3 linked regions of the Homo sapiens genome follow. The protein of the gene in region 1 interacts with the protein of each later gene in a biochemical or structural test. Each region holds a gene or a part of one and is shown in the gene's direction. Other genes may lie near its edges.

Region 1 (7,184 bases):
CGAGTTCGAGACCAACCTGGACAACATGGTGAAACACCGTCTCCACTAAAAATACAAAAAAAAATTAGCTGGGCATGGTGGCACATGCCTGTAGTCCCAGGTACTCAAGCGGCTGAGGCAGGAGAATCTCTTGAACCCGTGAGGCGGAGGTTGCAGTGAGCCAAGATTGCACCATTGCACTCCAGCCTGGGCAACAAGAGCAAAACTGCATCTCAAAAAAAAAAAAAAAAAAAGACGGAAGATTTGAGTCCAGGGAGTGAGGTCAGTAGTAGTAATGGCCCCCCTGCCCCATTCACAAGCCTCTGTCATTTCATTGGCTCCTCAGTAAGGAGACAGGGCAGGTGTCCATTTCACAGACGGAGAGAACTGAGGCCTAGAGAGGTTAAGCGACTTGGCCACTGACTGCCTGTCGGTGGTGAGTTCAGAGCTCTAGCCCAGTGAGTGCCCTCCATCTCAAAAAAAAAAAAAAAAAAGACAGTGTAGTTTTCCAACTTCCTGCAGTTTGTGCCCGAGGCATTCACTATCTCTGTTACATTGTCTTTCTCTCTATACAGTCATAATTTTCTCATTATTGTTATTTTGGTTCCAGATCCCTTTCTTCTGTCTCCTTGGCAATCTATCCTCAGACACGCAGATTCTTGGTGAGGGGTGGGGGTGGGGGTGGGGGGCTGAAAATAGGGATGGAGCCTGCCATGCTCTAAGGAGCACAGAGGCGAGAATTCTGGGACAAGAGTGTGAGCTGAGATGGTTTCCATTCAGCCCAAGGCAAGGAGGAGTGGAGAGCAACTCGGCGTTTGGCTGGGACCTGGCTCCCTGTGTTCACTGGAGTGTGGGGTGAGGGTCAGCTGATCAGGACAGAGGCCAAAGATGAGTGGACAGTTTGATCTCAGAACAGTGCTGCCACCTGACTCCTTTCTGACTTGACGGGAGGCCTAAAATTCAGATCAGACATGTTTTTGCAAAGGTACATGGGTGTGTGGTTCCTTGCACATGTGATTTCCAACATGATCTTCCTCAACTGGACTGGCTCCGGCTCCCCAGCCTGCAGCTAGGCTTGAAATTTCACCCCAACATGAGACTGTGTTTCTCACGATGGAGTGCGTATGACCCCAGGGCTGTGAGAAGCCATAAGATGGAAGAAACTGCATTTCAAATGAAAAAAGAAAAAAAAGCTTTACTCAAGATTAATGAGTTCATATTTGTACAGCAATTAAAACAAACAAATATGTTTTATTTGGAGATTTGGAAGGATTCGTGCATGCTTCGGGATTCTAATGTTGCAGTAAGCACAAATAGAACATGGAGAAGAATGTGAAACCTAGATGAATTTAACATTTTAAGTCTCCGGAGACACTTTTGAATTCCCCTGGGGTAGATCTGCTTCAGGCTCCACCTCAGACTCTGCCCATATTCACTCCTCTTCAAGAAGCATTGGCCGAATCAGTCACCAAAGTGTCTTATCTCATGTCCCTGGAAGAGATCAATTTCACCTAGGTCAGTTACAACCCAAAGTACATAAATTACTAAGCCTCCTGTGAGCAGGTTGTAGTCAGGGGTGGAGGGCTTAAATAATCCATAATTTCCTCAAGTGTTAACGTCTCCATTTTGTTTTATTTTATTTTATTTACTTTTTTTTAAATACAGAGTGTCACTCTGTCACCCAGGCTGGAGTGCAGTGGCACGATCTTGGCTCACGCAACTGCGACCTCCCAGGCTCAAGCTATCCTCCTGCCTCGGCCTCCCAAGTAGCTGGGGCTACAGGTATGCACCACCAGGCCCAGCTATTTTTTGTATTTTTAGTAGAGATAGGGTTGCACCTCATTGCCCAGGCCGGTCTCGAACTCCTGAGCTCAAGCGATCCACCCACCTCTGCTTCCCAAAGTGCTGGGATTACAGGCTTGAGTCACTGTGCCCGGCCTCCATTTTATCAAATTTTAAAACTGAACTGCAGTGAAGTTAAAATTCTTGCCCAAGGTCACATAGCTGGTAAAGTGACAGGAGCCAGATTTCCAGCTATAGTCAGTGCTGGTGATAGTTAAGGCAAGGCACTTTTGAGAAACAAAGTTGTTCCTAAGCCAAGATGGTAGGAGGAGGACAACAGGAAGGAATGCTCTGTTAACAGTGGTCATTTCTCAGGGGTTGCAGTAAGATGAACTTTCACATTCTACTTTATTTCTGTAATACTTGGGTTGTTCCAGCCAATATGTTTTCTTAACGGTGGTTGCCCAATGATGTTAAAAGGTTATTTTTTAGGCTCTAACCCCAAATAACTTCCCTTGGTCTGATTTCAACCTCACTCAGCTACCTTCTGACAATTTGATTTCCCATTAAGCTGGCTAGAGAGAGAGGCACTGGCCGGCTGGGTGAAGCGGCTCATGCCTGTAATCCTAGCATTTTGGGAGGCTGAGGCAGGTGAATCACCTGAGGTCAGGAGTTTGAGACCGATCTGGCCAACATAGTGAAAGCCCATCTCCACTAAAAATACAATATTAGCCGGGTGTGGTGGCACACGCCTGTAGTCCCAGCTACTCAGGAGGCTGAGACAAGAGAATCGCTTGAGCCCGGGAGGCAGAGGTCGCACTCCAGCCTGGGCAAGACAGAGCGAGACTCTATCTCAAAAAAAAGTGAGAGGGACACTGGCCAAGCCAACATCACTGTGTGGCCCACCTGATTTTCTATTCTTATTATAAATGAATGTGGCTCAACACATTTTTCTCCTCTCATCCCTAATCCATCCTAGGGTCTCACAAACAGAAAATAACATTATGCAATGCAAGTCCAAGCAGAGAAAACACAGAATCTCTTCTAGCATGGTAACACACAGGCATTCGGTCACTCTTGTCCGTGTACAAAGTCTGGTTGTCTCATCAATGCCTGACCCTTTGTCAGAGAGCAAGTAAAGGCTTCTTTTCTTCATCCATTGCTGTGTTACATAGAGGTCTTTCACTTGCAAGGGACAGAAGTTCAATTTGAACTGACTTAAGAATAAAAATCAGGGTAGATTTTATAGGTTAATATCCTTGAAAAAATCCAATGCTAGGTGTCCTGCTTCAGGTGTTCAAATAACATCATCAGGCCTTTGTCTGATTCTTTTCTCATTTTTCTTTTGTGCTGACCTTACTCTTGAGCAGGTTCTCTGCACACTGTGGTCCTGGCAGCCCCAGGGTTCCATCCTCTAACTTAGAAACCCAGCACAAAGAGAAACTTCTCAAGGGCTCCAACAGAAGTCTCAGAATTGAATCTCATTGGCTTGGCTTCGATTATATGCCTACGCTCAAACCAATGGCTGCAGCTAGCAGAGCAGAGCATGCTAACTGGCCTGTCCTGAATTGTATCAGGGCCCCACTTCCAGAGAGCTGGAGCCAGACATCACCCTCTCCGTGAGCACAGAATGACGGTGGGAAGCAGTGGTTGCCCAAAGTGAAAACAGAGAACTGTTACCCAAAAAAGGGGAAAGAATGCTAGGCATGGGGGAAAAAACATGCCTAGATCCAAGGCCACCTTCAGCTTGATCTGGGGGAAAACGTGATATAGATGTGTATCTATACCTTAGTATCTGAGACAGGTCTCAGTTAATTTAGAAAGTTTATTTTGCCAAGGTTGAGGACACATGTCCGTGACACAGCCTCAGGAGGTCCTGATGACATGTGCCCAAGGTGGACAGAGCACAGCTTGGTTTTATACGTTTTAGAGGGACATGAGACATCAATCAACATATGTAAAATGAACATTGGTTCCATCTGAAAAGGTGGAGCAACTTGAAGCAAAGGCAGGAAGACCTGAAGTGGGGAAGGGGCTTCCAGGTCACAGGTGGATAAGAATGGTTACATTCTTTTGAGTTTCTGATTAGCATCTCCAAAGGAGGCAATCAGATATGCATTTGTCTCAGTGAGCAGAGAGGTGACTTTGAATAGAATGGGAGGCAGGCTGGCCCTAAGCAGTTTCCAGCTTGACTTTCCCTTGTGGCTTAGTGATTTTGGGGCCCCACGATTTATTTTCCTTTCACAGAGGTAACTGATGGTCTAGCTACAGGTTGAGAAGAAATGGGATGGGATGGTGAGAGTATTGGATTTCAGAGATAGAGGGCCCAGGGGGAGTGGGGAGGTGGGAGTTACCGATCCCACAAGGGAGGGAGCCCCTTTGGGGCTGGTGACTCCAGGACACAGAGGGTGGCCTGCAGTGCCAGCTACTGGGGTAAGGGAAAGAGCTGAATCAGAGGCACAGGACTCTGTGTGGCCCTTGGCAGGTGACATGAGCACCAAAGGATCCTTCACACGGGCTTCTGAGTTCAGAGTGGCCTGAATGAAACATTTGTTTGAGGGAGTGCACATGCCACCCCGCCATTTGCCCTTGAGGGCAAAGTAAGGAAATCACGTTTTCCTAACTGCTGTGTTACTAATATCTGCCTGTCTCACATGAGTCCTCTTAGCCTACGCCACCCGGCTGGGGCCAGTTGTGTCCAAATGAACCAATGAAATTGATTCAACCAGACCTTGGACGCTGGTAGATTCCACAAGGTCCTGCTCCATGGAAGGCCCCTTGGCAGGCAGCCAGCAGCCTACCCTGACCACACCCTGCCCTTGTTTCCCAGCCTTCCCTACAAGGCTGTATCAGGGTTCCGGGAAATGGGGGCTGGGGACCCCGGGCACAGGGCTTGGCTTAGAGTAGGCCCAAATAAATGGCAGCTGTTCTTAGTACTACTGGATACGCAGCATGCCTAGCACAAAACAGGACACCTGTGATTAGGCATGTGAAGTGTGCAGCAGGGCACCGATGGGAAGTTCATACACCCGTAACTGTGAATACAACAGCTGTGGCTCTAAGGAAATGAATACAGTAGCAGGTGCCAAACACCTGTGCGCTGTATGTGGTTTTGTTTTTCTGCGTTGGGTTGGGCTTTGTCCTCCTTCCACTCACTTTTCTTACCTCTCCCCTCCTCTTTCCAAGGCCACCTGCCTGTAAATGTGCTCCAAGTGCAAACAAACTTTTTTCCACTCATCCTGACATCCAAAAGTTTGTGTCTGAGAAAGCAGTGTCCACCAATCCACCTATGTCCGACTCATAGGGCTGTCTGTTTATTGTGCAGATTTGTAGATGCCAGTGAGCCAAGATCGGGCCACTGCACTCCAACCTGAGAGAACGAGACTCCGTCTCAAAAAAAAAAAAAAAAGTTAAATAAAAAAAATTAATAAAAGGTTCAGGGACCTGGGAAGTGGGGGTGAGAGAGTTGGATTCTGCTGCCTCCTAAAGCTTGAGCCACAGTTCTGTGGGCACCCACCAGGTACCTGGCCCCAACAGGAAAGTCCTGATTCACTAGACCCTTGCCCACTTTGCCCTCCTATCAGGCAATTCAAAGTCTCCAGACCCGCAAGTTACTGATTAACCCTAGGTTTTGAGAAAATAAATAATAATAACTGAAGGGACGACGTAAGCCAAGAAACAAGCTGGGCAGCTCTGGGAGAGAGGAGTGTCAGACAGCTGTTGTCAACAGGCACCTGGCCAGAGTGAAAAGGAGGGGCAGATTCCATCCAAGTCCCAGCGGCGCCAGCTGACACTCTCTGCCAATGCCCAGGTGCTGAGCGACAGTGTCCCACCGGTCCCTGTGCCCAGAATGGCCTGCACCAAGACCCTGCAACAGTCCCAGCCCATCTCCGCAGGAGCCACCACAACCACCACCGCTGTGGCCCCTGCTGGGGGTCATTCTGGCTCCACAGAATGTGACCTGGAGTGTCTGGTGTGCCGGGAGCCCTACAGCTGTCCCCGGTTGCCCAAGCTGCTGGCCTGCCAGCATGCCTTCTGCGCCATCTGCCTGAAGCTCCTGCTGTGCGTGCAGGACAACACCTGGTCCATCACCTGCCCGCTGTGCCGCAAGGTCACCGCCGTCCCCGGGGGCCTCATCTGCAGCCTGCGCGACCATGAGGCGGTGGTGGGGCAGCTGGCCCAGCCATGCACAGAGGTATCGCTCTGTCCTCAGGGGCTGGTGGATCCTGCTGACTTGGCAGCAGGACACCCCAGCTTGGTGGGAGAGGATGGACAGGATGAAGTAAGTGCAAACCACGTGGCAGCCCGGCGCCTGGCCGCGCACCTACTCCTGCTGGCCTTGCTCATTATCCTCATCGGGCCCTTCATCTACCCGGGTGTCTTACGATGGGTGCTCACCTTCATCATCGCCCTGGCCCTGCTGATGTCCACCCTCTTCTGCTGTCTCCCCAGCACCCGGGGCAGCTGCTGGCCCTCCTCCAGGACTCTCTTCTGCAGAGAGCAGAAACACAGCCACATCTCTTCCATTGCCTGAGTGCCCTCTGATGAGGCTATCCCTGCAGCCCTTTCTGCCCTTGGGCCCCCGGACTTCCACAATGAACAGGGTAAGGGGTTACGGACTAAGACTGGCTCCTTTGGGAAATCACATGCCAGCGGGACTTGCAAGCCACAACCGAGATGGCCAGCCTGGGTCAAGAATTACACGCTTGGATGACAGGCTTGCACTTGCCCTTGGGATAGCATAGCTAAAACTGTTGGTGGCTAGGGGAGCAGACACAAACTACTTGAACATGACAAGATGGGGGAAGCTCCTGTTCCTCTTATTCCAATGTTCTTGGTTTTTCTTTATATAACTTGATGAAAGTATTGCAGTATTGATGCCATTGTAGAATAGAACTGGAATTCCATTCTTTTTGCAATTTATGTAGCTGGTTTTGTTTTCTTGTTTTCCTTTGTTTTTTTGGGTTTGGGGCAGCAGTTGGTTCACATTTCCCTTTGTTACACATTTTCCCTCCTGGGAGCTTGGAGTCCACGGGGAGGTCCCACTGCGCTTCCTCTAACACTGAGCATCTCATGCCCAGCCTAGCCTCGGCAAGTGTCCTGGTTGTTTAGGTCTCCCATGGAGTTGACCCTAGGGTTGGGGAGACAAAATGTGTGTGAAGGGATGGTGTTTCTGAAGCTGCAGGGGGAGTCCCACATTTAGCTGGCAGAGATGGGGAGGGGTGGAGAGGGCAGGGTTTGGGAATTGCTCCCAGTATCCTCACTAGGAGTTCCCCACTCCGTGCCACTAGGCCCTGACTTAGCAGCAAATCTCGGGGTTACAAGGACTGCAGTCCACATACAGTGGGGCCAGCTGCCCATCTATTGCACAGTCCCACACGGTAGAACTAGATCTTTATGGATGTTACCGTCTTTGTTATTGC
Region 2 (7,464 bases), on another chromosome or scaffold:
CGAGGTCACCCTTTGCATCTGGCATGGGGCAGGTATTCAGTTAATATGAGTTCATCTTTCTTCCTGGTCCTCCCTGCTTACCTGCCTAGTACTACCCAGAACTTTAGCTCTACTGAATTCATTGCTGGGCTCCAGGCATTCCTGGTACTTCGTGGCAGAAGTGACTTCATTTCTCATCCAGTTAACAAGCATTTTTGGAGGTCTTGGTGTTTTAATCCTTTGGTCAGGTGGCACCTCCTCTCAGGTGCTAGCCTTAATGACTGTGTTTCTTTTTTTCTTTTTTTTTTTTTTCCTTGAGACAGAGTTTTGCTCTTATTGCCCAGGCTGGAGTGCAATGGTGCGATCTTGGCTCACCACAACCTCCGCCTCCCGGGTTCAAGCGATTCTCCTGCCTCAGCCTCCCGAGTAGCTGGGATTACAGGCATGCACCACCACACCTGGCTAATTTTGTATTTTTCAGTAGAGACGGGGTTTCTCCATGTTGGTCAGGCTGGTCTCAAACTCCCGACCTCAGGTGATCCGCCCACCTCAGCCTCCCAAAGTTCTGGGATTACAGGTGTGAACCACCGTGCCTGGCCCAATGACTGTGTTTCTTTTCTTTTCTTCTTTTTTTTGAGACAGAGTCTCACTCTGTCGCCTAGGCTAGAATACAGTGGTATGATCCCGGCTCACTGCAACTTCTGTCTCCCAGGTTCAAGCGATTCTTCTCCCTCAGCCTCCTGATTTAGCTGGGATTACAGGCATGCACCACCATGCCCAGTTAATTTTTTTTTGTATTTTTTAGTAGAAACAAGGTTTTACCATGTTGGCCAGGCTGGTCTTGAACTCTTGATCTCAAGTGATCCACCTGCCTCGGCCTCCCAAAGTGCTGGGATTACAGGCGAGAGCCACTTCGCCCAGCCTCTTTCTGTTTCACAACACCTGGCATTTACATTTTTCACAGCCTTGTTCATACCTTGTGGTGGTTACCTGTTTCCCTACCCCTCTGCTAAGTAGTTTGTGAGCTTATCAAGAGTGGAGACTAAGTCTGATTCATTTCACTGTCCTCACTGCCCAGCCCAGTATCTTACTTAGTAGCTACCTGGTAAGTCTTTCTTGAATGGATAAGTAGGAGCCCCTCTCCTGTTTGATCTCCTTTTCTCCTCTCTTTTTCCCCTCTCTCCAAAGCCAGGAAGTCGCTGTGTTCCCTTCTTTTTAAGAACCTATTCTTGTGTCAGGTTTGGGACTATAGTTGTGGTTGCACCATCCCTGCTGGAGACCCCTGGCTGGGGCAGGCCCATGACTCTGGGAGATGGCTGACCATGTGTGGCCAGGATGGACTTGGGCATAACTGGCTGGAGTGTGTTAATCCACAGGCTTGGGGGCAAGGAGGGACACCTGGACCACTGGAATGTTGTGCACAAACAGGAGTCCTTGTGCTGCGCATGGAAGCTCATTAAGGGCTTCCAGGTGTCTTTGTCATCTCTAGAAATCCAGCCACATTTTCCTGGGGTGTGGGCCCTGATGATGGGACTGGCTGGGTATTCCCTTGTCACCTCTTCCTCCCCTCCTGTCCCGCTACTCACCTGGGACTTTCTGAGGGTCTCTCAGTTGTGCATAATCTCTGTGCTGATCTCCTCCCCTTCTGTGATTGGCGACAACTTCCCCTAGTATATGGTACGTTATTTACAAAGCTTCTTTAGGTCCTGAAACTCCTCACAGCTCTGTCCGGTAGATCAACATATCCCCCATTCTATAGGAAACTGAGAGTGATAACAGACAGCAAGTGTGTGGCAAAGCTGGGGTTGGAACCCAGAGCTCTTGCGTTCCAAACCTTGTGCTTACAACTTTGCCAGAGATGCTTCTCCTCTGGCTTTCTTAGGGGATGGGTTCCACCCCTTGCTTGAGCTGGGGAAAAATGGCCTTACGGATAGGTGGGCCCCTATGTCTGGTCTCTAATACCCCAGATCCTATAAATCCCTGGGCAGGCCTGTGTCCACAAGGAGCAGGCTTGGGATCCTGTAGTTTGCAGCCTTGTTGCTAGGTCAGGCTGGCTGCTTCTGGTAGCCAGCAGAGGGCGTGAGGGGCCCAGGAAAGGTCTGCTGCTTCTGGTTGGTTTTGTTTTGAAATGAAAATTATGTTTTAAGAGGTTATATGGTCATTATTTTTTTAATTAAAAAATAGGCATTTGTACAGGTTCATTTAAGTTGAACCTTCGTGGTGCCAGGTGTGCTTTGGAATTTAGGAAAAAAACAATTTATAAAACTTACCTGGTGTGTATACTTTGTGTTACATAACACCTCCAGCAGGGTCTGAGGCAGCACCTCATAATCAAACACCTGAATGTTTTCTGCATTGAAATATTTGAATATTTACCCCAAGTGGGATAAATAGATTCTTGTCAGTTCTGGTCAGGTTATGATGCCAAATGAATTAGATAAAGACTTTTGGGCCGGGCACAGTGGCTCATGTCTGTAATCCCAGCACTTTGGGAGGCCGAGGTGGGTGGATCACGAGATCAGGAGATCGAGACCATCCTGGCTAACATGGTGAAACCCCGTCTCTACTAAAAATACAAAAAATTAGCCAGGCATGGTGGCAGGCGCCTGTAGTCCCAGCTAGTCGGGAGGCTGAGGCAGGAGAATGGCATGAACCCGGGAGGCAGAGCTTGCAGTGAGCCGAGATAGTGCCACTGCACTCCGGCCTGGGCAAAAGAGTGAGACTGCATCTCAAAAAAAAAAAAAAAAAAAAAAGACTTGATTTTCAAAGCTTTTTGGGTTTAGTGTAACTTTATAAAAGGGAAAGTGCAATAAAATCGCTGATAACACCAGGACTTAGGGATATTTTGCTGTCTAGCCTTCCCAATTTTGTGTACGTGTGTTTGTATACATACATATGTATATATGTGTAGATATCTGTTAAATGTGTTCAGTCACAGATGAGAACATTGTTTGCACACTTTTGCCTTCTAGAGTATATCTCTTTTTTTTTTTTTTGAGACAGAGTTTCGCTCTTGTTGCCCAGGCTGGAACGCAATGGGGTGATCTTAGCTCACCGCAACCTCTTACCTCCTGGGTTCGAACGATTCTCCTGCCTAAGCCTCCCATGTAGCTGGGATTACAGGCATGCACCACCACGCCTGACTACTTTTGTATTTTTATTAGAGACGGGGTTTCTCCATGTTGGTCAGGCTGGTCTCGAACTCCCGACCTCAGGTGATCCACCCACCTTGGCCTCCCAAAGTGCTGGGATTACAGGTGTGAGCCACCATGCCCGGCCTACAGCATATCTTGGAATCCTCTAGCCCTTTGTCAGGTTCAGGATCTAGGCTCTTGCTAGTTACCCCCTCTTCACCACCTTTCCTAGATGAAACTCCTTGAGGTAGAGCCACATTCTCCACCCAGGCACTTGCTGGGTCTGAGTCTCTGGCTGCCTGAGGCAGTGTGGCTCCCTGGGCCAGGCCCTGCAAGGTCAACAGAAGCCATAAGGCATATGGGGCCACTGTTCTCAGGGCACCTAGGACCCTTTTGGAAGTAAGTCTTAGTTTCACTCAGCAACTAATTCCCTAAAAGAGTCTCCTACTTCACATGCATGGAGTGGTCAAACAGGGCTGAGAACTTTACCTTGGCCAGCGTCCTCTCTGTCAATGATCTAGGCCTCTCGGGAGCTTGAGGTCGGGGCCCTGGGGAGGGAGTACAGGTTTTCCCTGTTGCTGACCCCCACCTCTTCCCTCCAGCAGGAGCATTGGTTTGAAAAGGCCCTACGAGACAAGAAGGGCTTCATCATCAAGCAGATGAAGGAGGATGGCGCCTGTCTCTTCCGGGCTGTAGGTGAGTCTCTGCCTTAGTCCTTAAGGGCCTAGGGCTGCCCCTAAGCTGTGTCCCAGTTATCAGGAATAGCCCCTGAGACAGGGTTGAGGCAGAGCTAGCTAATCTTTTAGGGACTCTAGGCTCCAGCCTCAAGTTGGTATCTGACCTCTAGCCGTGGGTCTTGAGACATTGTAGTGGTGCAAGATTAATATGCATAATAACAGCAAGAAGAATGATAAAGAAAATAATATCCTTTGGGACACATTGTCAGGTGCTACAGGAAACCTCTTTGATTCCCCTCTAAGCTAGGTGAGTGTAGGGACTACTGTTGCTTCCATTTGTCAGATGAGAAAAGTGGCTCAGAGATGGTGGGTGACTTGTCTGGAGTGAAATAATAAGTGGTAGAGTTGGGATTCAGTGTCTGGGTTAGATTAGTCTGAGGCCCATGCTCTTAACCATAGCATACTGCTGCCACCCTGGGCTGTATGACCCCTAGGTTTATACCCAGATCCCATCTCTGGTGTGTTGCGGGTCTCTGTTCCTCAATCTGTGTGTATGGGGGCTATCAGACTAGATCTTTACAAATTTCTTATATCATAGAATTTTTTTTCAACTTATATAAAAGTAGAGAGAATGATGAACCCTCATGTACCCATCATCCAGCTTCAAAATAGTCAATACGTGGCCAGCCTTGTTTCATCACTATCCCGCCCACTCTTTCTCACTCCCCTGAAAGAAGAGTATTTTTAAAGCAAAACCCCGACATTGGATCATTTCATTCATAAATATTTCTGTATGTTTCTCTGACAGATACAGACTTACTCTCTTCTTTTTAACATAATCAAAATGCCATTACTGCACCTAACAGAATTAATAATGCCTTAATACCATCTGTTATCCAGTCTGAGTTAGATCTTTGAGGCCATTTTGGCTCTGAATCTGTGACCCAACAAGTAGTTGTGAGGTCCTGTGCTAGGGTGAAGGGGAAGCTGGGAATGTGACCTGATCCTCCCTGTGGTTCTCTGATATCTACCAAGGAAAAGTGCCCTCTGATAGGAGCTTTGAGCTGGGAGTCAGAAGACCTACCTTCTAGTTCTGGCCCTGACTCATAACTGCTGTGACACTTGGCCTTGGTCTTCCCGTCTGTGAAATGGTGTTGATTCTCAATGCCTCTTTGAGTTCCTTCTTGGTCTGCTATTCTCTCCGTCTGTGGGTACCCCCCATGTCTACTGGTGGGCTGGGGTGTTTTAGGCTCCATCCCTGGCTGCACAACTGATTCTTGGTATGACCTTAGGCAAGCAGCTCTTCTTTCCTGAGGCTGTTTCCTCATCTGTAAAATGGGGCTAAAAGACCCTAATGCTGTAACGATTTAATGAAGTTGCTTTGGTAAATCCCTTTAGTGCCTGACACATATAGTAGACCCTCATGGAACAGTAGCATTTGTAAAACCCAGATGCCATTTTCACTGGTGCCTCAGAGTCACATGTGTTTGTTGAAAGGGTGGAGTGAATGGTCTCCTCTCTATTCTGCCAAGCAGAAGAGGCTCAGGCAATGGGCTCTATTGGACTGGGAAAAAACTTATCCCTCCTACCCCTCTGGCTCAAGTTTGTGTTTTCCCTGGGATGTTTCCCAGAGGAAGAGCTGGGTTTCGGGGCATCTTGGACAAAAGAAAGGCAAAGAAAGAATAGGTGGGGGCCTGTTAGGTGCTAGGCCCTGTGTTGAGACCTCAGGCTAGATGTGGGGTAAGCAGGGCTTCTGGTGGAGTTAGGATTAGAGAATGCAGCGGGCATCTGAGTCTTGGGCAGTCATTGAGGGTAAGCCTTGGGACTGGCTAGTGAGGACCTGGCTTGTGTAGTAACTCATATCAAGAGCCGTGTGTGTGTGTGTGTGTGTGTGTGTGTGTGTGTGTGTATCTAGCTAGCTGTTCTCTGTGTGTGTGTGTGTGTGTGTGTGTGTGTGTGTGTGTATGTGTGTGTGTATCTAGCTAGCTGTTCTCCCCAAATACCCCCGACCCTTGGGGCTAGCTAGTGAGGACCTGGCTTGTTGTAGTAACTCGTATCAAGAGCAGTATTTGTGTGTGTGTGTGTGTCTATATGTATCTAGCTGTTCTCCCCAAATACTCCCGACCCTTCCTCCCACTGGGGCCTTCAGTAAGGGGCCTCTACTTACAGGAAGAGCTGACCAGGGCAGGTTGAAGGCCTTTCCTTATCGGCACTATGGCTACACATTTCCCCTGACTGGGCTGCCTTTGGCTTTTCTCTGTAAAACCTCAGAAGTCCTCTGGCCTCTCCCCCGAAGTACATGGCCCTTGGTCTCTAGACCTTATCTGGAGGTTTCCTTGGTGCAGAGTGCATAATACATGTGCCTGGGAAGGGGACTTTGTCCCTGGGCTTTTTGCTGCCCCCGTTTCCAGCCTCGCCTGGATGGGGACAGATGGCAGTCAGCTTAGACTGTAGTGTGAAGCCCTACAGGCTGACTTCCTGCCATGTGTTGAATAGTGGAAGGAACGTGGAGCAGAGAGTTGGAGTTGGGCGGGGGCTGCAAACATAGAGGGCACTGTTTCCTTGACCCCTGCTGTGTGCTAGGCATTCAGCTGGGTGCTTCAGGCTCACTGCAAAACTTGGATCATTATCCCATGAGACAGGTGAAAAGATTGAAGCATAGAAAGGGAAATGACATGCTCAGGGCCATTAGCCAGAGCTGGCCTGGGAACCCAGAGGTGTCCAAAGGACACGCATTCTTTTTTTTTTTTTTTTTTTTTTTTTTTTTTTTTTTTTTGAGATGGAGTCTCCCTCTGTCGCCCAGGCTGGAATGTGCAGTGGCGTGATCTCGGCTCACTGCAACCTCTGCCTCCCGGGTTCAAGTGATTCTTCTGCCTCAGCCTCCTGAGTAGCTAGGATTACAGGCGTGCACCACCACACCTGGTTAATTTTTGTGTTTTTAGCAGAGATGGGGTTTCACCATGTTGGTCAGGCTGGTCTCAAACTCCTGACTTTGTGATCCACCCGCTTTGGCCTCCCAAAGTGTTGGGATTATAGGCATGAGCCACCGCATCCGGCCAGGACACATTCTTTTTATGATCCTAGGATCCTTAGCTTCTTAGCTTGGTTGTCAACTGGCTGGATGACCTTGGCTGTGTTCCTTGACTTCTCTGGACCTTACCTCCTCCAAGTAGGAGCACGTGGCCCTCTGTTGTTGGGAGTCTTGAGGCAGGTGGCTTTCTGCCTTCTGTTCCCCTGGATTATCTTCCTATAGGGTCCTACCATTTGCTTTAGAGACTTCTGAGAATTGCCTACTCCCCAGGTAGCTGCCTGCCTGCCATTGGTTCCCCTGAGTTAAGCAATATCCATTGCTTGCGCTCAGTTCTCTCCCACCTCCTCTTATTGGGGATTCATGAGCATCATTGAAGGCTTGGGTGGAGTGGAGGTGGGAACCTGAGCCTCAGAGGTATCCTGTGGCCCACCCTGTCCCTGTTATGCTCAGATAACCTCCTCCTGGAAACATGACTCTGCATCTCTCCCTTGCTCCCTCCCTCCATGTGGCTTTGACTCAGCAGAAACCTCTAACCCTGACCAGGGTCCTGGTGCTAGCTTCTGTGGGCAGAGTGAAGGCCACATGGTTGTTTCTACATGGGCCATGGGGGAGTGGCAAGGGCTGTGCATGTTACCACGATGAG
Region 3 (7,464 bases), on another chromosome or scaffold:
GAATGTGCAGGTCTTCACTCTGAAATGTGCAGGTATGAGGCAAACAGGGACTATTCATGAAACAATAGCTTTTCTTCTATTTGTTTTCTAATTCTTCTTCCAAGGTCTCTATAGGGTATTGTTTGGAGCTGTTGTTGAGATAAAGCAGAAATAAATTTACTATAATTAATTAGATCTCAAGTGCTTTGCAAATTAATATCTAATTTATGTAGCAAAATATATAGCTAAGCAAACATGTATTTGAAGAAAAAGGCAGTCAGTTTCAGCCAGATAAAGTGCTGTTATGAGACTATATTAAAATTTTGACATAGGAATCACTTAGCAATGTCTGCAAACCACAGATATCTTGGAGCAGAGTATATTTCTCTAGTTCACATATGCATTCTGTCTCAACAATTTAGCAGTAGCCCTGTTTCAGTACATGTCTGCTATAGTCCCATTTACAAAAAGAACCGAGCCTACATTTATCTTAGAATGGCTCACTCCAGCGTACGGACCCCTAGCCTTCGGAAATGTTCATGTTGGCTATCATTTTGTCTTCCTTAGTAATCTCAGAAAATCATGGCCATCAGACCTGAGCTCACCCCCACTTCCTACTGTGCCTTGATATCTTCTCCCTTCCCTCCTGCATCTTTTCTTTGTTCCTAACTATAGGAAATAAATAAGAGACACCCTTCCTCATTTCTCAAACTCACTCCCACCACCAATCTGTGATCTTGTTCCCCCAACCCCCCGCCCCCTCCCAATGCAGTCTTCCTCCTCCACCCCATCAGAGGTCTCCCTGTTTCAGGAGCAGTGATCTGCTCCTGTGGGCTCTCTTAGGAGTCATGCTGTTTATTCCTTTTCATTTTCAAACTTCTTGCGTCCTCACCTTAAACTCCTCTAGTTTTTTTCCCCTCCTCTGCTTAATCTGTGCCCTCATTTCTTCCCAATCCTTTGGACTCTTCTCAAGTCCCATTTTGCTGGACCTTTCTGCAAGTGTTACATTTTACCCTCATCTTTCTGGAAACTTCTCATTCCATTTCCTAAATGTGGTCATTCACTTAGGACTCGGTCCCTGGGCTCCCTCTCTTCCTTTGTCATCCCTGAGGAGCTGTTTCACCTCTCACAGCTTCAGTCAGTCCCCTCCAGGGAGATGATTTCTGAATGTGTGTCTAGGCCTGGCCTCTCTCCCAAGCTGCTGCTGGACATTTCCATTTGTGTGGCAGTCACCACCAACCCAACACAGCTAACACAGTCAGTGTTCATATTTAGTTGGCGCTGTATTATAGTACATGTTTGAAAAAGTGTTTAAATATTGGATAGCCCGTAGCACTGGGCACCATTGGAGCTGTCTAAAGCTGTCACTTCCCTGCTCAAAACCCTTTGCTGGGTGACATCTTTGCCTGCCATTCAGGGCTCTCTGATACTGAGTGGAATCTACATCTTTGCCCTTACTCCTTTTTTTTTTTTTTTTTTTTTTTTTTTTTTTTGAGACGGAGTCTTGCCCTGTCGCCTAGGCTGGAGTGCAGTGGTGCGATCTCGGCCCACTGCAGCCTCTGCCTCCCGGGTTCAAGTGATTCTCCTTCCTCAGCCTCCCGAGTAGCTGGGATTACAGGCATGTGCCACCACATCCAGCTAGTTTTTTGTATTTTTGTAGAGATGGGGTTTCACCATGTTGGCCAGGCTGGTCTCGAAGTCCTAACCTCAGGTGATATACCCGCCTTGGCCTCCCAAAGTGCTGGGTTTACAGGCATGAGCCGCTGCACCTGGCCATAGTTCTCTCTTAAGGTTGTGTTTAAACATCCCAGCCACTTACTTTCAACAAAACAAAGCCTTTCCCTGGAGTGGCCTCTCCTATGCCATAGCTGGCAGGACTTGGGGGTCAGTGTGGCTGGGACTGCCTCGGCCGTTTTTCGTCCGTAACTGCTTCCCTCTGGTGACACTCAGCAGCTCCTTTTATCTTCCTCTGTTTCCTCCTCCTCATTGGTGACCTTGCTCTTCCTTTCTCTCTCTCAAAGGCCTTGTCCTAGTAAGTACTTAATATACATTTGTTTCCTTGAATACATTAAAGAGGGCTGATAGTATCAAATTCTAGTGTCAAAAAAAGGTCAATATTTATCTTCTACAAAGGAAGACGCAAAATAGTCAACCCATTAGAGGTTAAAAATAAAATTGTTAAAGTTTGAATAAATATTTCTCAATTAAGGTAAATTCCTACCTAATCATGGGCTACTTTAATCTCATCAAAATCATTAGCATAAAATTTTGTTATAATGAATTTGAAGGGCTCTAAGTCTCAAGTCTGCAAACCTTTTCTGTAAAGGACCACATTGGCCAGATGTGGCCTTTATCACACATTCTGTTTATTATTTTTTAAGACAGTTTTTAAAATATAAAAACATTCTTAGCTAGGCCCTGTGCTAGTTATTCAAATCTGGTAGGCCCATTTGGCCATTCAGCTTATCTTCCTATTGCAGTGAGTCCCCGCAACTCTATAGGAGGAAAAACAAAGCCACAAGGGTGTGTTTTTGTGTGGCTTGCATTTTGAATAGGTTTCTGTCATGTCTTTTCCTATTGTGTGGAGGCTGTTCACTTGAAAACAGTATGCACTTAGAGTTTTTAGGAACAAGTTTGTTTATTCAGCAGTTCTTAAAAGCCGTTTCAGCAGTCTTATTCAGCCTAGGGTTCCACCAAGGCTGTAGCAGCGGAAATCTACCTTCAGGTAAATTATACATGGAAAAACCACTCAGAGCCGAGTGGTGTCTCCGTATAGCAGCTTAGTCCTGAGCAGATTGAGCGATGGTTTTTGCCAGCTGCTTCAAAAACCTGACAGGCAGGATCTGTTTAGACTAAAATCGATTCCTAAAATAATAGACCTGGACTGACCGTAATTATGTAACTGCAGATCTAAAAATGATGAAGGATTTCCTTATAAATTACTATGGAATCATGACTGGTCCTATACTATCTGGGAGATGAAAGTAAAAAGAAAGCGTGGGGCTCCCATTTCCCTGGTCCCTGAAGAGTTCTTGGGGTGCTGCAGCACACACATTCCCCTGCAAGCTGAGCCTGCTGTGTTGCTCTTCCCAATACCCCTTTCCTCAGGGGGCAAAATGCAGAAACCCTGTCCCAAAGAAGTCTCCCTATGGGATTCTCCTTAGCTGTAGTGATCATGATTACTGTCATCTTTGTCCCCCCTGGTGTTCAAGGTAAGTTTGAACCTCCGCAGCCTTGCCAGCTTTTTGGGGTCGCCAAAGCACATGCCTGCCCACTCACTGCCCTTGTTGTCTTTCTCCCACCCCGTGCAGAGTACATCCAGAAATACGCCACGGAGGAGGCGCTGAAAGAACAGGAAGAGGGTACCGGGGACAGCTCATCGGAGAGCTCTATGTCTGACTTTTCCGAAGATGAGGCCCAGGATATGGAGTTGTAGTAGAAAAAGCACCTGCTTTTCAGAAAGACTATTATTTCCTAACCATGAGAAGCAGACTATAATATTCATATTTAAACAAAGCAATTTTTTTTATTACTAAACAAGGTTTTTATGAATAATAGCATTGATATATATATATTATATATCACCCTTTAGATCTTGATTTCTTGGTCATTTCTCAACCTGAGGTGCATAGCATATTCCCACATTCCATTTGGTAGCAATATGCGGTCTGAATGCATGCATTCATGAGTCCATGTGGCCAAGTCAGCCTGTGTGCTACTGAACTGTCGAAGGAAATAGCCGCTCTGATAGGTAGATGTGAGTAAAAAGAACAGGAAAAAATTGCTTCTTTTATTGGTTTCCAAAGAAACAAACCAAACCAACCAGCTCTTGGATGTGAAGATAAAATAGTGCTTTTTTGAAATGGAGAGGAAAAACTTGGGGAGGAAGAGGCCTGCTGTGGGGGCATCGGAGCCAGCCATGTAAGAATCAGAGCTGCTCCTTCCTGTGAATCCTAGGTGGCCCTATGTCTTCTGTGGAGTTACAGTATAAAGCAGGGAGCTAATTAAGAGTATTAAAACTTAAAACCATTTTTTGACTCTGATTTTAAGTACATTTTTATATGTCAGTTGCTGCCCTTCACACTACCAGGCCCTGCAGCCACAGTGTTCTGTTGGAGAAACTTGGGGAAGTGTTTTCTGAACCAGTTCTTTTTCTTGGGGTAGAGCGTGAAATCCAGACCTGTTTTTGAAAGGACAGCACAGGAGGAGAAAAGTGACTGGGACGATGCTTCCTCTCATCCAAAACACATGCAGAGTCACATCCTCATCCTAGTGTTTGGCAGTTTGAGACCGCTACCCTGAACTTAAGAGCTTTAAATATGAGGGTTGTGTTTCTGGGGGGGTTATTTTTTTGGTGTGTGTGTGTGTGTATTGTGCTTAGAAAGGTTGCAGATTTCATCTTCACCTACCAAGAGGCGGCCGCCTCCTTGGACAAGCCGCTCATGGACCATTAGACTTGAGAAGACGACCCACGTGGTGACTGCAAAGCCCTGGGTACTTGCCTTCATGTTCTGGTTTGGTTTTCCCTTTTTCTGCTGCTCTTGGCAGCAGCCTGGTCATCATCTGCTTGTGGGAGTGGGAAATGGGTATTTTAGACCCAACACAGGTTCTAAATTTAAAACAAATAATAATTGGAACAAATAAAGGTTCTTGTACCCAGAGTGATTCTACATGGGAAAAACAAACCAGCTTTTTTCAGAGAGTGACCGAATAGGAAGAAGGGATTCAGAAATATGATGTAGTAGAACATGCCCTGCAGGAAGAAAATGTTTTCTCTCCTGCGTATGTTAAGAGGAAATCAGTTTAAAATGCCTGCTAATCAAATGTCGACTCAGCTAACCATATGTCCAGGTTGCTGCAGAGTTTCTTTCAAATCTGAGTGTTGCCTGCTGAACTCGGAGGGGAGTTTGGAGAAATTTTAGACAGCAGCTCTGTGTTCTTTTTTTGCCGCAGCCAATAAGATAATAGCAGAATTAGCCAATCCTAAAACCTTCTAAAGACGATTTTTGAGCATCCCACTGGGATTATTTAATTTTTCTTTTTGACGTGTGTTTTTAGTTTAGAAGTGCTGTATTCCACAAGGTTTAAGTCAGTGAGGTTGGAAGATACCCTATCTTTTTTATTCAAAAAGCACAATCAATCTTTTGTTTGAAAATCTATATAAAGTACAACTTGCTTTTAGCATGATTATTTTCCTAAATAAAAAGACAAAGAATTTACTTACTTTATGTTAATTACGGGCATGAAGCAAAAGGTTTTCTTTAAAAAAAAAAAAAAGTGCAGTGATGTAGGGCTGTGGTTAGTTAACCGTACTGAGTTATCCATCTAGCATCTGTGGCTTGCTGGAAGGGTAGTATTAACTATTTAACATGTAATGGTGTACTTCACTCTTACCTAGCACGCTGTCTTCTCATTGCTTTGGGGGAGGGAGGGTCTCTCTGCTGGCACTGTCTAACTTGCTTACCTGCTGACTTTGCAGTTTGCTTGTGCTATGACATTTATTGTAGGTGCTATTTAGGGTAGGCTTAAAGTGCTGGGTGGTGATTTGAGTTCAAACAATAAAAAATTGTATTTTTTCAATATTGTATAAACAATAGTGTTCTAATTACCTTAAAAAAAAATAATGACCAGTTAAGAATTGCTTTTGATCTTGTCAAAAAACTGAATAGACCCCAGTTTCGGGAAGGTGTGTGAGCAGTGCCATGACTCTGCCCCTTACCTAATCCCACATCTCTCTAATGATAAGACATTGGCTCGCCTCTGACCAGAGCCCCAGCACCAGAGAGCGGAAGATGCAGAATTGTCAAATGACCTGCTGGGGGAGGTTGTAGGAGTTTAGCAGATTTGAGTGTGGCTGCAGAGAGAGAGAGTGTGTGTATGTGTGCACATGTGTGAGAGTGTGAGCGAGAGTGTGTGTGTGTCCATCTAAGTGTGTGTGATGAAGGTGGGATAAGGCTCCTCTGTTAGTGCTGGAAGCTCCTGTAATTGCCGCATGGATCCCACTGTGCCCTCTTGTTCTGTGCAAGTCTGTCCTGTCTGGGCACTAACCTTGGTCCCATGCATGTTTATGTTCTGGGTGGGGCTTTGCCTCTCCACTGGGAAACTGACTTTTGCTGGGTTGAACAGAGTCCCTTATGCTTTTTGTCCTCTCCCTGCGCCTGGGAGAGGTGGGAGTAGGAGCCCAAACACACAGGTACAGAAAGATCTGGAAGAAGGCCTGGCAGTGAATCCAAGGACTCTGGGCCCCCAACAATAGATGGTAGCGTAAGTCTGGAGCAGCGGTGTTTCACCACCAAATGCCTTTCCAGGCTGCCCTTCCAACACTCAGGAGAGCATCCAGATCCCTGGGCAGAGGCTCTACATTCTTGGCTTTAGAGGTGGTGGCAGCGGCAGCAGGTCAGAGCCACTTCTGGCGGTTTCCCTCCCCTTTTTAGTGCCCATAGTTTTTGGATCCTCCCTTGAGTTTTACCAGCACAAGCCATTCTTTGCCCCTGTTCACATAACTGAGCTCAAGCTCTTGCCAAACACCAACAAGCAAGATGGTTGCAACCTGGCAACATTGAATCCACCACCCTTGGGCTCCCTCTGGAAGCCCCAGCACCGGGGGGCTTTTGGGCACAGGGTCAGTGGTAGCCATCTTAGACACTGACATTTGGCTTTGTCGTCAATTTCATCACCCTCCTTGAGGTTACTGTGCAGTTTCAACCAGCATTTTATCCTAGTGAGGTCATTATCAGGAGTTGCCATATCATCTCTCCAGTACCTAACATTTCTCATCCACTTCAAAAGCTGTTCTGACTGCCAGCTGGCTGATCTAAGCTCCTGAGGAATGTCTCCTCTCAAAGGAATTTTTCCCTCCAAAGGCCCCCTGAAGTCCTAGTTGGCATTGGCCTGGCACATGCTTTATGTTAGGCCTCCCGTTGGGATGGCTGAGAATCATGAAAGACAGATCCTCCGCTAGCCTCTGTGGGTCAAGTTTCTGGACACCAAGTCTCTGGGAACTAGTGTTTGATTTTAAATGGCATGTGGCCCTTCCTTGTTTCAGTGACTTAGAAAAGTAAAAGCCATTTAAAAAAGTTAGCAAGATTTTTTATCGACTTCCCAACTGGGCTTCCAGCCTTGTTGAATGAAATCATCTATCTCTGATTGGGCGCAACGAACTGCATTTCTTTGGACTTCTGAATCCATGTTTGTGCTTTCTCTGGCCCGTGAACACCTCGGCGATTCTGTTAGGGATGGGATGAGTGGGAGGAAGCCCTTTGAGAAGGGGGAGCCGGCCCTGTCATGCGCAGGTTTTCCACTCATCTGAGGAAGAGCCAGGGCTCTGAATTTAGCCTAACACTCATCTTGGCTGTGGGCTTGGGAAGAAATGGCCATTATTTACAGATTGTATTTGGTACATATTGTGTGATACTTGAAAAGATAAAAGGGACTGCCAGCCCCTAACTGAAATCTGAAGCTTTTTATCGCTTATTTTTCCTCGCC

The links. Proteins that work in one complex are often made in the same cells at the same time.
Region 2: the proteins of RNF186 (region 1) and OTUD5 form a complex in vitro, tested with the Homo sapiens proteins (one study listed by BioGRID).
Region 3: the proteins of RNF186 (region 1) and UBE2H form a complex in vitro, tested with the Homo sapiens proteins (one study listed by BioGRID).

Annotation. Positions count from the first base shown.
Region 1 is NC_000001.11:19,813,529-19,820,712, reverse strand, and holds RNF186 (E3 ubiquitin-protein ligase RNF186), read left to right. Parts: upstream 1-5,429; 5' UTR 5,430-5,611; coding exon 5,612-6,295; 3' UTR 6,296-6,684; downstream 6,685-7,184. UniProt on the Homo sapiens protein: E3 ubiquitin protein ligase that is part of an apoptotic signaling pathway activated by endoplasmic reticulum stress.
Region 2 is NC_000023.11:48,940,535-48,947,998, reverse strand, and holds part of OTUD5 (OTU domain-containing protein 5), read left to right. Parts: intron 1-3,715; coding exon 3,716-3,809; intron 3,810-7,464. UniProt on the Homo sapiens protein: Deubiquitinating enzyme that functions as a negative regulator of the innate immune system. Has peptidase activity towards 'Lys-48'- and 'Lys-63'-linked polyubiquitin chains. Can also cleave 'Lys-11'-linked ubiquitin chains (in vitro).
Region 3 is NC_000007.14:129,830,888-129,838,351, reverse strand, and holds part of UBE2H (ubiquitin-conjugating enzyme E2 H), read left to right. Parts: intron 1-3,290; coding exon 3,291-3,415; 3' UTR 3,416-7,464. UniProt on the Homo sapiens protein: Accepts ubiquitin from the E1 complex and catalyzes its covalent attachment to other proteins. E2 ubiquitin conjugating enzyme that transfers ubiquitin to MAEA, a core component of the CTLH E3 ubiquitin-protein ligase complex.